Linked DNA regions of Homo sapiens. The protein of the gene in region 1 purifies or fractionates together with the protein of each later gene. This does not show direct contact. Each region holds a gene or a part of one and is shown on either strand. Other genes may lie near its edges.

Evidence for each region.
Region 2: the proteins of IL33 (region 1) and GALM purify together in Homo sapiens (affinity purification with mass spectrometry; one large-scale study listed by BioGRID and IntAct). This does not show direct contact.

The regions. Positions count from the first base shown.
Region 1 is NC_000009.12:6,256,003-6,258,667, reverse strand, and holds the end of IL33 (interleukin-33 isoform a precursor), read right to left. Parts: coding exon 2,500-2,665; 3' UTR 685-2,499; downstream 1-684. UniProt on the Homo sapiens protein: Cytokine that binds to and signals through the IL1RL1/ST2 receptor which in turn activates NF-kappa-B and MAPK signaling pathways in target cells. Involved in the maturation of Th2 cells inducing the secretion of T-helper type 2-associated cytokines.
Region 2 is NC_000002.12:38,664,504-38,668,976, reverse strand, and holds the start of GALM (galactose mutarotase), read right to left. Parts: upstream 2,864-4,473; 5' UTR 2,816-2,863; coding exon 2,626-2,815; intron 1-2,625. UniProt on the Homo sapiens protein: Mutarotase that catalyzes the interconversion of beta-D-galactose and alpha-D-galactose during galactose metabolism.

The DNA.
Region 1 (2,665 bases):
AGAAATAGGAACACTTTTACACTGTTGGTGGGACTGTAAGCTAGTTCAGCCATTGTGGAAGACAGTGTGGTGATTCTTCAAGGATCTAGAACTAGAAATACCATTTGACCCAGCCATCCCATTACTGGGTATATACCCAAAGGATTATAAATCATGCTGCTATAAAGACATATGCACACGTATGTTTATTGCGGCACTATTCACAATAGCAAAGACTTGGAACCAACCCAAATGTCCATCAGTGATAGAGTGGATTAAGAAAATGTGGCACATATACACCATGGAATACTATGCAGCCATAAAAAGGATGAGTTCATGTCCTTTGTAGGGACATGGATGGAGCTGGAAACCATCATTCTGAACAAACTATCGCACGGACTAAAAACCAAACACTGCATGTTCTCACTTATAGGTGGGAATTGAACAATGAAAACACTTGGACACAGAGTGGGGAACACCGCACACCAGGGCCTGTTGTGGGGTGGGGGAAGGGGGAGGGATAGCATTAGGAGATATACCCAATGTAAATGATGAGTTAATGGGTGCAGCATACCAACATGGCACATGTATACATATGTAACAAACCTGCATGTCGTGCACATGGACCCTAGAACTTAAAGTATAATAAAAAAAGAAATTTCAGAATATTGAGTCATCATATGATAAAATCATTATAGTCTCACATACATTTGGAAAATATACTTTATTCAATAATATAAACAATGTAGTAGATATATTTGATTATTTAATAATCATTTTAAGTTTATTGTACAGATGCACATGTCAATAATTAGTGTTTTTCAGATGGGATGATATACATTCTGCTTTTATTTTTATCTCTTTGGTAACAATTATTGACAGAACAATGAAACAAAGATAAATTGTTTTACAGTTGTAATACCCTTGTATGGTAATTCTCAGCCTCTTTTATCTTATATTCTACTAGCACTTACATCTAATAGGTCTCAATAAAGTAGAAATGTAAAAGTATGTATTTTCAGAAAAGGTCATATTTCATAAAGATTCTGTTACTATGTTAGTCATTTATCATAAGTGTTAAGTCTAAGAAAAGTTGTAATAGAAATTGCTAAGACTTTAAAATAAAAACTACTCCTTTAGTAGTTAAAAAATGTTATTATATGGTTGAGTATAAATTTTATTGCCCTAGTGACAGTAAAAAACAAAAACGTTTAGCAAAAAAATATTGCCATTAATAGCTTTATCTAAAATTCTACAACAGACAAAGCAGAATAAACGTTTTGGCATCCAGAGGTCAGGTGATACAGAAATGAAGTTCAGCAGGTGCAAAAGATATATCAAGGGCATGGTAGTTAAAAGAAATGAAAAGAGACAGATGTCAAATGAATATTCCACAGTAAGCAGTGTTATCAGGAAGCTGGAATACAAAAAGACTTGTGCACATGGGAAATAAGGATTAGAAGCAACTTTGCCCAATGTGACAGTGAGTATTAAAAGACATAGGTCCCTGGAAGCCAGGGTCAGAAGGGATGGTAGGCCATGGACATGAGGGACAGTCAGTTACTGAAATTTTAATGTTAATTCGGTGTCTCATCTAGGCTCTGGTAGGTTAGAAGATTTCTGGCCTTACCATGATAGTTGGATTATATGGTACTTGGATGCTCTAAAACATGTTGTGACTCAGTACTCTTTAAAAAAAAAAAAGTTTTAGCATGTTACATATTCCTAATAAGTGAAATTTTATGTCTGAACTAAAATTTACTTCACTTCCTCGTGTAAGAATGCCTTGCTTAAACTCAATATATAAAAATCAGAATTTTAAAAATTAAACAATTAGAAATGAAGTTATTCACTTTACAAATACTGGATTTATTTTTCTAAATTTTTTAGTTATCTTTACTTTTTCACACATTTATGTTACCTGGCTTGCCATGTGGGCCTTTGAAGTTCCATATCCCCTGACAGTAAGGGAGATCTGCTCTGAGTGTTGCCTAAGACATCTACAAACAAACCTGGTGTTTTATTCCAGTTGAAAAAATGATAATTCTGTGAAGCATCTGGTCTTCTTTTTACTAGCAGCTCTAGTGTTTGAGCCTATCGTTTGGAACTGTGGAAAATTATTTCTCTAAGTAGCTCTTTAAAATGGATCCCTGTCTACATAGAGACTTAAGCTATGGCTCTTTCCTCAGTGGCCTTAGCTCTAAATATGAAGTTCTTTCTGGACTGAAACTAGAGAAAAGTAAAGGTCAGACTGTATCTCTTTAGAATGTTGACCGTTTCTTTACCAATACCCTATTTAATATACTGATACTTGTATTGAAGATGCAGTTATACAGAGGGAAATAAAAGAATAACTGGAGGATTAGAAAAAATATTTTTATACATAATATGGAAAACATTCCACACATGCTAAGCACTCTTCATTTCCCTTAGATGTCACCTGTCTCTTTCTTTATCTCTCATTCCTTCTCCAGTGGTAGCATTTGGGTACTCAACCCAAGACTCACAGGTTTCCATCAACTAAGTTTCAGAGAGCTTAAACAAGATATTTTCAGTACACAAATTCTCAGAAGAGTCTACTTTAATCAGAGCAAGATGATTATCCTTTACACCTATAAACACTCCAGGATCAGTCTTGCATTCAAATGAAACACAGTTGGAGTGCATATTATGAAGGACAAAGAAG
Region 2 (4,473 bases), on another chromosome or scaffold:
CCTGTCTGGGAAATTGAAGATTGTTCATATCTAACTCTGCAGTTACAAAAGGACCATGTCTCATGGAATTATCCACGCTCAGATCTTCCGCATGGCTCAAAACCATTTTTGGGATATGGTAATGTCAAGATAACCCCTTATTCTGTCAAGTATTTAAAAAAATTTTTTTTAAATTTAAATTTATTTATTTATTTATTTATTTTTATTTATTTTAGAGACAGGGTCTCACTATGTTGCTCAGGCTGGTCTCAAACTCCTGGCCTCAAGCGATCCTCCCACTTTGGACTCCTAGGATTACAGGTGTGAGCCACCATGCCGGCCTCTGTCAAGTCTTATTACTTTAAATTATTTACCTCTGTTTGTTTATATATACTTACATACTCTGATGGTTTAAAAGAATATGCAGTGAAAATTAAGTCTCCTTCCCATCCTCTGCACCCTGGGCACCCAGGATCCTTTCTTAACAACCACTGTTACCAGTTTATTGTTAACATAGGTTTTAATGCACTAGAAATGTAGTATCAGAGCACCATCAAAATAGTAACAGAGTGTTGTATATCTCCCCTGTAAGAGTCACAGCCCACACCTCTACAACAAACACAGGGTAACAAGAGAAAAGCAAAACAGCTGGGCACAGTGGCTCATGTCTGTAATCCCAGCACTTTGGGAGGCTGAAGTGGGAGGATTGCTTGAGGCCAGTAGTTCGAGGCTGCAAGTCAGCTATAATTGCACTACTCCACTCTAGCCTGGGTGACAGAGCGAGACTCCACCTCTAAAAAATAAAAAATACATAAAAAAGCCAAACAAATTTATTTGATTATAGTTTTATGTGACACGGGAGCTTTCAGAATGAAGACCGACAGATACAAGGAAAACAATCCATTTCTATGCTTAGGTCCAATGGAACATGGACAGCCATGTAGAAATATGATTGGACCAAAAGGGTAAGATCTGTTGCTAATAGAGTGAGTGGGGAAACTCGGCAAGGCCTGTGTTCAGATTTTTCTTGGCCTCCCCATGCAGCATTTCTTCCTCCGGGTATGGGGCAGGACCCCTCTGGAATGAGGGTCTTAATTTCTTTATGGTCAGCTGTTACACAGAAAGGCAGAGGGAAAGGTTAGAGTATATTTTTATTTTTTTGAGATGGGGTCTCACTCTGTCGCCCAGGCTGGAGTGCAGTGGCGCAATCTCGGCTCACTGCAACTTCCGCCTCCCAGATTCAAGTGATTCTCCTGCCTCAGCCTCCCAAGTAGCTGGGATTACAGGTGCCCGCCAGCAGCCTGGCCAACATGGTGAAACCCCATCTCTACCAAAAACACAAAAAAATTAGCCGGGCATGGTGGTGTTCAACAGAAAGCTGAGTTTTGTTTTTTTCCCTGAGGAATTGAAATTTGCTCTCTGTTTTTTAAGATAGAGTTTCGCTCTGCCACCCACGCTGGAGTGCAGTGGCGCAATCTTGGCTCACTGCAACCTCCGCCTCCTGGGTTCAAGCTATTCTCCTGCCTCAGCCTCCTGACTAGCTGGGATTACAGGCACGTGCCACCATGCTCAGCTAATTTTTTTGTATTTTTAGTAGAGACAGGGTTTCACCATGCTGGCCAGGCTGGTCTGGCCAACATGTAACCATGAGCCAAGTTACATATCTTACGTATCGGAAGAACCAAACAGACAGAATGACACACCAAAAGGAAAACCTCAAACCTCCTCTCCAGCAGAATTTGTCTACGCCCCAACCACTGAGCAGAGAGTATTAACTCTCAGTTTCCCTTTGCCAGCTTTATTTCACACCTCATTTTCTGTCTAGTTACACCATGGTGCTAAGAGAGCATGATGTACATTTTCCTTTGCTGCAATCAAGCTGCAATTGTCATTCTTTATTTATGCAATTACTGAGTTAAAGTCTATCTCCCCAGCCAAACCGCAAGAGTGGGGACCTTGTCTGTCCTGTTTAATGAGGTCATCGGATTAATAGAGTTGTCAAATGTATTAATTAATGCCTGATCCTAATTGCCCATGGATTCTGGGATAAAAGTCCATCCTAGTTGGTAGGAGACCTGATCTCTGAGAAGACACTGAGTTGGTCTTCTCTATTTTGTTCCTAAATGGTTATTGGGTAGCTGGTGTACTAGGCAACCACTGAGCTTAGTGGAGCATTTCTGAGACAACCAGGCCTCAAAGAGAATCTGATCAAGGAAGAAGGAAGTAGAAGAGGCAAGTATTTGAATTTCCTTCTTCAGAAGGGAAGAAGTGGGAGCCACACCCCCTCTTGCCTGCTCTTTCCTCTCCAGCCTTCTCCAGGTATCAGGCAGTTCAAAGATTAGGCAGTTCAAAGATCGCTCCAGGATCGCTGAAGTGTATCATACCATCAGCTGACCTTTTACGTTAACTGGGGCAAAGCCTGAACGGATAACCAGAGGCCAACTGCCATAGTTTATTTATTACAGTTTTTCCCAAATGCTGGATGGCCACACGGCCCTCTATGATGCATGCGCTTGCAAGTCAGACGGTCCCAAGCTAGGCGACTTTCCCCCTTGGTCCCTCGCATTGCAAGTGGCCCGCTAGATCCGGGAGGTATGTAGCGTGGGCCTGGGGCCTGCTCGCAGCCCAGGGCACAGTTCAACCCACCTTCCAACTCGGCGAAGCCAAGCACCACGTCCGAGGCTCTCCCCTGCCTGTCTTTGACCTCTAGGGCTGTGATCGTGCAGCCCCAGGAGATGATGTCCACTCTCAAGAGGTCTGACTGCAGCTGGAACTTCTCCACTGTCCCTCCTCCCGAGGGCAGCTCTCCAAACACGGCCCTGGTCACCGAAGCCATAGGGAAAGTTTGGCGTGTGCAGCCACTGCCCGCTCTTCAAACTCCAGCGCTCGCTAAGCTAGAGGCGACCCAAGTTTACAGGAGAAGGGGCGTGACTCGGCTCAGACTCCTCCCTTTCCCTGCCTGGATTTAGGGAGTGACCGTTCCTGCAAAAAATAGCCCCTGGGGCCTTTCTAAATCAATCATTTGCCTGAGGGTAACAAGAGGGGCAAACTTTGCAGCCACACTTGTACTTTTTTTCCTTGGCTCGTCCTGGTTGCATTGCATGTTGGGAATGGTAGTTTTTGGGAGGTGAAATTGCATTTTGGGGCTTGTAGTCTTTCTAAACTCGAATCCTGGGTTGACGGGGTTCTACCCCCATCTCCCCACACCTCAACATGTAATGAGCTGGTCATTAATGTCGGTGGCTATCAGACGAAGAATGGGAAAATACAGATAGCAGACTTACAGTGAGACCGATCTTGGGAAAAAATTAGATTTTAACTCTTTGATACAGGGGGTAAGAAGTACAGCAGTAGTTGGCCGGCTCGGTGGCTCACGCCTGTAATCCCAGCACTTTGGGAGACCGAGGCAGGCGGATCACGAGGTCAGGAGATTGAGACCTTCCTGGCTAACACGGTGAAACCCCGCCTCTACTAAAAATACAAAAAAAAAAAAAAAAAAAAAAAAAAAAAAAAATTAGCTGGGAGTGGTGGTGGGGGCCTGTAGTCCCAGCTACTCGGGAGGCTGAGGCAGGAGAATGGCGTGAACCCGTGAGGCGGAGCTTGCAGTGAGCCGAGATCACGCCACTGCACTCCAGCCTGAGTGACAGAGCGAGACTCCGTCTCAAAACAACAACAACAACAACAACAAAGTACAGTAGTAGCTTAGAAATGAGGTAAATCATCTCAGGCTTCTCTGCACACAGACTTACTGAAGATTCACTCTTTTTGTCCCACGGATGAAGTCCTGGACATGGTTCTGTTAGAGCCACTGCCCAGAAGGCTCTCCTGACGGCCAAAGCTGTGCCAGCCTCGAGGAGCTTGGACCAGACAGGGTCAGGTAGATGGATTAGGCCCTCGGTGTGCGGAGGTGATTAGAGACAGCCTCAGACTTATTTTACTTCAAGGGACTGGAAAGGGACCTCTGGTGTCTTCTGGCTCCTGAAGTCCACAGTTCCTTTAAGAAGGGATTCAGGGAACAAGTATTGATTGAGGTCCTTGTAAATGCCAGGTACTGAACCTTTGTTATCTCCTTTTCTACAAGTAGGATGGAGTCTTCAGGTATGTACAGTTGGAGAGGAAAGACACTAAGGTTATTAAATAATTGTCTTGCTTGATTGTGTCTCAGAATTTGCTGAGGACATTTAAAATGCATATTCCCAGTCCCCACCTCTGGAATTTCTAATTCTGGAAGTCTAGGGTGAAACTCAGGAATCTGCATTTTTCATGTTCCCAAGTTATTCTTCTGCAGATTATCTGGGACCAGATTTAGAGAAATATTGCTCTAAGGCTTGATGAGTAATCTGAATTTTTTTCCCCAAAAAAATAGGCTCTGATGGCAGAAGGATTAAGATAAAGCTATTAAGGGCCTTAATGAGATAACATACAGGCACCTATGTACTTCCTTGCTAAGTCTGGCAACTTTAGAGGAGTACTGAGCCTAGGAAGTGGGAGGAT